Linked DNA regions of Homo sapiens: regions 2 and 3 are each reported to be linked to region 1. Evidence: microRNA targets listed by miRTarBase, many of them from high-throughput screens and not tested one by one. Region 1 holds a microRNA gene; each other region holds the end of a gene's coding sequence. Distances are between the middles of the regions.

Region 1 (3,000 bases):
ATTCTGTCTCAAAAAAAAAAAAAAAAAAAAAAGCAGCTACTGAGTCAACTTTTTTTTAAGGTTTCCGTTGGTGTTCTCTGTCCCTGGAATGCCTGCTTTCCAGGCCCATGCCCTTGTCCTTGATAGGATACCAGGGACTACATTCTTACTACCTGTTCCCCCTATCATTCATGCCCCTAGCTGGAGAATATTAGCCATCTATCAAGAAGGAAGAAACTGGCAAGCTAGTTCTTACTAAAGTGTGATTGACTGATAATAGGGCTCCAGTGGTGGAGGTTCAAGCATCTGGAAAGAGCAGAGAGGAATCTATTTTTGAGCAGAAGGGGTTCAGAAATGACGTGATAGCTGGTACAATACTAGATGGGAGATGATTCTGAGGAATTGGAACTCCACAGAATAGCCTTCCCAGCTGGGCTTTAGAACTCTGGACTTTGTGGGGACAGTGGATGAGCCCAGGGTCCTGGCAGAAGGCTCGCCCAGCTGAGACCTCTGGCCCTTGTTTCCTCAGGCCAACATGCAAAAGTCTTCTGTACCAAGACCTCGGACACCGTGTGTGACTCCTGTGAGGACAGCACATACACCCAGCTCTGGAACTGGGTTCCCGAGTGCTTGAGCTGTGGCTCCCGCTGTAGCTCTGGTGAGTAGGTTCAGAGAAAAAGGGGGCCCTTACACCCCTGCCTCCAACTTCCCCCGGCAACTCCAGCCTCTTTGGCTTCCAGCTGTCTGGAGTTACCCCAGGCTGGTTGTTGGAAGTGGCACAGGTGCAGCTGTTTACCCCTACCACTGGCATTTTCCTCCTCTGTCTCACCAAAGCCTCTTCACAGCCCCACGGGGCAGGCGGTGGGAGAACTGTGCCCACGTGAGGGTTGAGGAGGTGGTGCGTGGGAGAGTGGTGCGCATGCTCGTGCTGCGAGGAGCAGGACTGCGGGGAGGAGCGAAACTGCTGGGAAGAGCGGGACTGCGGGGAAGAGCGGGACTTCGGGGAGGAGCGGCACTGCGGGGAGGAGCAGGACTGCAGGGAGGAGCGGGACTGTGGGGAGGAGCGGGACTTCGGGGAGGAGCGGGACTGCGGGGGACGAGCGCGACTGCGGGGGACGAGCAGGACTGCGGAGAGTAGCGGGACTGCGGAGAGTAGCGGGACTGCGGAGAGTAGCAGGACTGCCGGTCCTGCCCCTGGACTCTGGCCGGTGTTGTGTGTGCCCCATGCTGAGGCGGTCCGCCAGCCTCCTGGAGATCCGCTGTCTGAGAGTGCTGGGCTGTCTGGGAGGGCAGCGTGGGTGTGGCGGAGGCAGGCGTGACCGTTTGCCGCCCTCTCGCTGCTCTAGACCAGGTGGAAACTCAAGCCTGCACTCGGGAACAGAACCGCATCTGCACCTGCAGGCCCGGCTGGTACTGCGCGCTGAGCAAGCAGGAGGGGTGCCGGCTGTGCGCGCCGCTGCGCAAGTGCCGCCCGGGCTTCGGCGTGGCCAGACCAGGTACGGGGTGGGGCTCAGGTCCTTGGGGACGCCCATGGGCCTCTCCTTTGTAGACATCCTTGCAGTGTCACGGGCATCAACCCATTAATTAGTCCAGCAGGGAGCACTGTTAGTGGTGGCCAGGTGCCTGCTACCCATCCGTCTGTCCACCTGTCCACCGTTCATTCTTCCTGCCAGCACTCCCGATTAGGCACCTCTTATGTACTGGAACCAGGAGACCCAGAGATGGATCAGACCAAGCCCTAAGCTAGGAAAGTTATGTGATGCTGCAAGATGAACTCACATAACTCTACAGCCCAATCCCGTGCATGTGTGTACAGGAATCTGTGTGTGTGCATGTGTGTACAGGCATCTGTGTGTGTGTGTGTGTGTGTGTGTGTGTGTAAGGGGTGGAGGTGCAGACAGAGCTCCTTGGGCCCCTCAGACCTCTCCTAGGGCTCTAGTGCCAAGGCCCAGCTGTCCCGCAGAGTGTCTGAGTGGTTGACAAGTTCGGATTGTTCCCTGAAGGAACTGAAACATCAGACGTGGTGTGCAAGCCCTGTGCCCCGGGGACGTTCTCCAACACGACTTCATCCACGGATATTTGCAGGCCCCACCAGATGTGAGTAGCTGAGTCCTTTGGTTCTGGAGGAGCAGGGAGGGGCTGTCCCTGGGTGACTGTGGGTCCAGGACACAGAGCAGCTCACCAACCACCATTGTCCAGACTGCTTTATCTGAGGGTGGCTCCCAGGATAAATGGCATGGTGGGCAGGACCTTGCCCTGGAAGGCAGGACTGGGTGGGTGCATGGGGAGGTGGGGGAGGGCTAGGAGGGGGTGGTCCTCAGAGAGGGCACACATCGTCACTCTCCTATCCTGCCTGCTGGGGCCCGTGAATGAGCCCAGCCACCCCAGCCACTCTGTCCCCTGCTGCCTCCTGACCAAGCCTCCTCCTCCTCCAGCTGTAACGTGGTGGCCATCCCTGGGAATGCAAGCATGGATGCAGTCTGCACGTCCACGTCCCCCACCCGGAGTATGGCCCCAGGGGCAGTACACTTACCCCAGCCAGTGTCCACACGATCCCAACACACGCAGCCAACTCCAGAACCCAGCACTGCTCCAAGCACCTCCTTCCTGCTCCCAATGGGCCCCAGCCCCCCAGCTGAAGGGAGCACTGGCGACTTCGCTCTTCCAGTTGGTAAGTCGCAAGAAGTCTCATTCATTCACTCCTTCTGTCTGCCTGTCTTTCTGTCTCTCTTTCTTCCTCTCCCATGGTTTTACTGAGAGCCCACGGGGGGCTGGACCCTGTGCCCTGTCCTGGGATACAGGTGGCAGTGAGACTGCTTTCTCCCCACACCTGGTGCTATCATTCAAAATCCCTAAGTGCGTGGGCTGGATGCAGTGGCTCAAGCCTGTAATCCCAGTGCTTTGGGAGGCCAAGGAGGCTGGAGGATTGCTTGAGGCTAAGAGTTTGAGGTCAGTCTGGGTAACACAGCGAGACTCCATCTCTATAAAAAAATTAAAAAATTATTTGGGTGGGATGGTGCC
Region 2 (3,000 bases), 140 Mb from region 1:
TAGGAGGAATGGTGGTTAGCAGATGGCTGCTATTGTCAAGGAGATGGCGTCAGCCTCTTCCCTGGAAGGCACAAAGTAGAGTTCTTACTGTAGGATATGAAGACTTACGAAGGTGTCTCGCATCTGTTTTTTTACAGACAGGTGCAGTTCAGGAGCAGATGAGATCCAAGGGAAACCGAGATAGGCCATGGAGCAATTCTAGGGGCTTATAGCTCCAATAATGGAATGGTGAGTGATTAGAGAAACCCATCTAACACCTCAGCCCCCATAACAGCACAACCTGATACCCTGACTCAGAACCCTGATCTTATGCAAGAAAGGGAGGTGTGGCCGGGCATGGTGGCTTATGCCTGTAATCCCAGCACTTTAGGAGGCCGAGATGGGTGGATCACTTGAGGCCAGGAGTTCAAGACCAGCCTGGCCAACGAGGCAAAACCCTGTCTCTACCAAAAAATACAAAAATTAGCCGGGCACAGTGGCGTGCTCCTGTAGTCCCATCTACCTGGGAGGCTGAGGCATGAGAATCACTTGAACCTGGGAGGCGGAGGTTACAGTGAGCTGAGATCGCGCCACTGCACTCCAGCCTGTGTGATAGAGCAAGACTCTATCTCAAAATATAAAAAAAGAATGGGAGATAGGGAGGAATTAGAAGGGAAGATTCAAGAATGTAGGATCTAGGCCGGGCATGGTGGCTAACGCCTATAATCCCAGCACTTTGGGAGGCCGAGGTCAGCAGATGACTTGAGGTCAGGAGTTTGAGACCAGCCTGGCCAACATGGTGAACCCCTGTCTCTACTAAAAGTACAAAAATTAGCCAGGCATGATGGCACACGCCTGTAATCCCAGTTACTCAGGCGGCTGAGGCCGAAGAATCACTTGAACTCGGGAGGTGGAGGTTGCAGTGAGTCTAGATTGCGCCACTGCACTCCAGCCTGGGCAACAGAGTGAGATTCCATCTCAAAAAAAAAAAGAATGTAGGATATAGAAAGACTGAGAGGGTGTTGTGCAGACAGAAGTAAAGAACACACTGTGGAAATAGCTTAAAGTCTGCACTAGGTAGTGCCTTCTTCCTAAAGCCTTGGTTTTCTTTGAGGCTAATCTTCTTTAAGAAAAACTTTTTTTTTATTTCAGGTTCTGCCATCTTGAAACCCCCATTCTGTTTCCAGCCCAGAAGAAATGCTGCCCCTACCAGATCCCTCCTTGAACCAGTGATCTAAGGACCCCTCTTTTCCCTATCTGCCTAACAGTGCCTCACAAGGCTTGGGGGCTGGACTCCCTCTACTCCCTCTGGCCATAGCCCCTCCTGGAGATGGGGTCAAGGCAGCAGGACTGATCAAGTGACTACTGGTTAGCCAGAGGAGCTCAGCTGAAGCCCTGGAAACCCTCAGGTCTGAGATAGGAGTTCTCTAGGAACCTGGAATGAGTTCCTGTCTCCTGAATGATGGTCTGGGTGCCACCTGTTTTTAAACTCTTAAACCTGGAACTCCTTAAATGGGGTAGGTGGGTGAGATTATCAAAGCTGAAGCTGGCTTTGCTGAGAAGCTCCCTACCTCCCTGCCCTTCTCCTCCTTCCTGCTGGAATGAACTAAAGCAGATGTCAAGCAGGGGCTGGTGGGGGTGCCTACTCCCTTTTCCACTCTATCTTTAGATTTCAAACCTTAGGCTTACAGCCCCTCAATATCTCTCTGCTAACACCAGTGTCTCTTTCTAGTTAGGCCTCTAATCTTCTGTTTCTGTTTACCAGCTTCCCAGCAACTTTCCTTTTTTAAAATATTAAAAATTTAATTCAGGTTCTCTTAATTATCCTCATCCTGCTGTTGCCTCCGCCCTTAACTCTATCCCTATTAGGAACCTTGTTTCCCACCGAATAAGAGTTAAGGTAAGAGGTAGCTCTTCACCTGATGACATTCCATTTAAGTTTTGGGGCATCTTTCCTGCCCTCTGCCAACCTCCCTGCTGGCCCAGGTGAGAGGAGGAAGAGGGGTCTGGAAAGAAACCCAGAATGCGGCAGAACTAGGAGTAAGTCCATCTCAAGGTGGACTTCTGATCATTGAGGATGGTGAGATAAATAGGTTGAAAACAATCATCTGTGAGTTTAGGAGTCTTAAGATCCTCACAGCACGGGAGCAGGGAGAGGCTCTAGAACAAGGTTTCACAACCGAGATGCCTTTGACATTTTGGGCTGAAGTGTTCTTTGTAAGGAAAACCTGTTTCCTATTTTGTGCATTACAGGATATTTAGCAGCAACCCTGGCCCACTCTAGTTATGACAACCAAAAATGTCTCTATACATTGCCAGATTTCTCCTAGGGGGCAAAATCGCCTCCATTTGAGAACCACAACTCTAAAGTCAAGATATTTTTCTCTGAAGTGATTTCTGCTTGGCACGCTACCCTCATCATCTTACTCATCTTAAGCCCGAGCCATGGATCAACTAGGAGCCCATATAAATGAGGCTCAGTAGGGCTGCACATAATCTCCAAACAATTCTTTATTCAGTGTTTTGCTTGTGTTTGCATGTTGCTATGATGGACAGGTCCCCCTCCTCCATTCTTGCCCTCTGGAGAAGTGGTTCCTGCAGTGTAGAGATATGAACAGGGTATGGTAGGATTGGGGAAAGGGGAGAGAGAAGCAGTAGATACACTCCTTATCCTCCCCAAATTTTAAGCTCTATTTCTGTGCCCTAGTCCTAGACACACATTAGACTCAGGGAGTTTTGTCTGAAGACCAGGTCCCACTGCCCCCTGGCTGAAGAGTCTGCTTTAAATGGGAAAACAACGTAGGAGCAGGGGTTTTTAGGCACTTTCAGTATTCTCAGGTGTTCTTCGTTCTGGCCCTTCCAGGGTAATTAGGAAGGCAGAACAAGACAGATGAGCTCCTGCCTGCTCTGAGACAAGAAGGGTGGGGTCTCATTAGCTTTGCAACAGGAAACATCCTGTTTTATGGTAGTGGGGTCAGGAATGTAGGAACTGGTATCCATTCTGCCAATTCCACCACCCAT
Region 3 (3,000 bases), not on the chromosome of region 1:
TTCGAATTAGAAAGATCACTTAAATTAAAAAGAGAAATTAAGTACTAAAATTAGGAAAACGCTGGATTTCTTTTGAAAGGAATCTTCAAGTACCAATACGTATAGAGAAATACTAATTTTGGTTACAGTTTCCTCCTTACTGTTAAATATACAAACTATAATACCTTTCAAAATAAAATACCCACATAAGATAGCTTTAATAAGAAATATTCAAGCCAGAACTTGGAAAAACATTAAGCAAGAAATTTACTGGGCTGATAATGTCTTAATTTGTGATCATTCAAACATTTGATGATGTGTCTCCTCTTGTAGACCCCAGGCTCTCTCCCTTTTGGTCCCCACAGTTAAGAGACATTCAGTTGGTTGTGCTTGAGACAACCTGTGATAATTTCATTCAGAGGAAAAATATTTTGCAATATAATGACAGACCAAGAAGGAAGAGAAGGTGGGTGCTCTGGAGAAAACTTATATGAGAAAAACACAAAATTATCACTTGAAAATAAAAAGATTTTTTTTTCCAAAGGAATGCTGCACCCATTTCACTTAAGATTAGAAATCCAGGTTAAAGGCACTGGGATGTACTCCTCACCATGAATAGACTCTCAATTACATTTATTCGCATGTCTGAGTCTATTGCAATCAGCCTGCTTGCTGAGTGCTTCCATGACACTCTTACATAAAAACCTAATGTAAATTAAACATGTTTGAAACCGTTTATAATGTAACTAGTTTTATAAAAATATCCAGAGTTGCTAATAAAGCACCAAGAAAAAGAGAACCTCAGGGGGAGGACTCAGATCCTTCCTACAAGGTCACCCTTTTATAATATTCTCTAATAGGACCTCCAGAATGACAACAGTCATCTTTGACATGTCCTACCTAGATAATCTTAGGGATGTAGAACATTGCTGTGGTGACTATACCCAAATGCCACTTTTCATTATAAATAGTTAAGAGACATGTTACAAGATTTCATGGCTTACTCTTAAAAAGGTAAAATAGGTGCAATTTTCCTTTAAGAAAGTCTTTATTTTATAATATACCATTAATATTTTGATGTTCCCTTCAGTAAACACTGATATAACTACACTGGGACTACCGAAGAACTGTGTAGTAGCTATGGTTATCTACAAATACTGTATTTTTTTCACTTGAATACAGTATTTGCACATTTAAAAAAAACATTGTACAAAATAAAATTATATAAATGAAAGCCTCAAAGAAATATCCATCACTAGGTCTTTGAGCTGAAGTGACCAAAGACCACAGTAAATGAAAACATTTCTAAACATGATGTAAACATAAATGAAGTAATGCAAAACATCAAGGTATTCAAATCTACTGTATTGCTATTTTCACCCTTAATGTATCTTTCTACATAGCTTTCTCCTTTTGGAACAGTAATACATGGGGCAGTACATTATTTTCATAACCTTATGCCATCAAATCAATTAATACAGATGCTTGACACATTTAATTATACAAAATCAATTTGCTTCAAGATACAAAATTAATGTTGATATGTAATTAATGAAAAAAATAAGATGTTAAAAAGATAACTATAAGAATATCCAGATATATGCTGTATTCCCACTTATATAGATCTGATCAATAAAACATCAACACATTCACTTAGATACTGATTTAATCCATGGATCAAGGCCATATTTTCAAAGTATTTTAAGGATGCCAGGACACTGCAAAAGCTGGAGAAAAGAGCTGAGGAACAACATATGCTTGCTAAACAAGAACTATGTTTATTTAGCTAGTGAATACCTAGAGTAATAAATTTTTACTTCATGATAGCAATCAGGCTCGCAAACACCCAGAAATAGGAATTAAGGGTTTTAAATGTAGTTATAAAGGTCATAAAAAGTCTGATTAGACTGAGGTACATTTACTCAAAATTTTGAGATTCATTAAGTGGTAGCAAACAAAATAATTCCTCAGACAAATGCACATTTTTCAGTATACATATTAATGGGGGGAGGAGGGAAGAAGAATGTGCATTAACTGGTGAAATCCACCAAGCTGCATATCAATATTCTGTTACACCAAACAGTTTGAAGACAAGGGAAATGTTCTAATATAATTTCAGATTATGTTTCATTTGGCTAAAATAGAGCTTAAGGTTGCTTTGCCATATTAAAAGTTTACTACAATAATTTTTCACATCAACATTTAGACTTGAACTCCAGGACTAAATATGGCATGATTATTTTGCTTTTAATCTGTCAAATAGCTAAAAATCGACAATTTAAAAACTACAACAAAGAAAAAGTTGAAGCAGTGTGACTCTTACATCATTGAACCACTTCTAATGGTTAACTGTTAGTATTTAACAAATTCAAAGAGTTAATGAATCCTTGCATTCATTCAGTCTTCTGTGCCTTAGCTAGGATGCATAATTACAAAAGACAGCAGATACTGGTAAAAGCTTCAGGACAGAAAGTGCTTGACGAAGTTACAGTTCTCAAGTGTGTTTGGTGAAGAGTATAAGGGCAGATGCGCTGATGAAAACCATTACGAGAAGAGTCAACTTTGTGTTAAAGTGTTCAAAGATGTCACCTTAAGCAGAAAAGAGCTTTAATACGTCTTCTTTGACTTATTAGGCATTTCCAGAGTCTACATCGTTAGTGTTGTAAATTTAACAGGACATCTTCATACGGTTATTGTTTGTTTCTATTTCTCTCCTGAAAAAAAAAAAACACACACACACAAAAAGAATTACAATGAAAAACTCTCATTATTTAAAGATTTAAACTATATGCACATATAATGTAAATCATCTCCATATAAAGTTCAAGTACTAATTCAAGTAATTAAAAACAATTGATAATTACCTCTATATACCATAGTGAGATTATTACCACAAAACATTTTACATAAAGAACTCTCAAACACAAAGACCTATTTCAGGAGAGTATAGATCCTCTCCACATCCCTATTGTTTGTTTATGATGAGAATATAATAACATCTTTTCAGTCCTTTCAAAGAGT

The links. Region 1 holds the annotated microRNA hsa-miR-4632-5p (GAGGGCAGCGUGGGUGUGGCGGA, at 1,265-1,287, shown strand). A microRNA usually pairs through its seed, bases 2 to 8, with sites in the 3' UTR of a target mRNA and lowers its output. Matches are read on the target gene's strand: a 7mer-m8 pairs with bases 2 to 8, a 7mer-A1 pairs with bases 2 to 7 and ends in A, and an 8mer does both.
Region 2: the mRNA of CDC42SE1 is a reported target of hsa-miR-4632-5p. Seed matches in the 3' UTR shown: 7mer-m8 at 1,555-1,561, 7mer-m8 at 1,935-1,941 and 7mer-A1 at 2,679-2,685.
Region 3: miRTarBase lists YTHDF3 as a target of hsa-miR-4632-5p. Seed matches in the 3' UTR shown: 7mer-m8 at 2,499-2,505.

What each region holds. Positions count from the first base shown.
Region 1 is chr1:12,190,449-12,193,448 of GRCh38, forward strand. It overlaps MIR4632 (microRNA 4632), which reads left to right and starts at 1,265; the gene lies at 1,265-1,325. TNFRSF1B (TNF receptor superfamily member 1B) reads left to right here. Exons shown (of 10, transcript NM_001066.3): 3 at 509-637; 4 at 1,326-1,475; 5 at 1,983-2,076; 6 at 2,415-2,650. RefSeq lists an enhancer at 1,270-1,821.
Region 2 is chr1:151,051,459-151,054,458 of GRCh38, reverse strand. CDC42SE1 (CDC42 small effector 1) reads left to right here. Exons shown (of 5, transcript NM_020239.4): 4 at 138-228; 5 at 1,132-3,000. The coding sequence ends at 212. Among named protein-coding and RNA genes, the nearest start is that of C1orf56, 5.2 kb to the right of the region's middle.
Region 3 is chr8:63,209,376-63,212,375 of GRCh38, reverse strand. It overlaps YTHDF3 (YTH N6-methyladenosine RNA binding protein F3), which reads right to left. Exons shown (of 5, transcript NM_152758.6): 5 at 1-2,693. The coding sequence ends at 2,670. Among named protein-coding and RNA genes, the nearest start is that of YTHDF3, 42 kb to the right of the region's middle.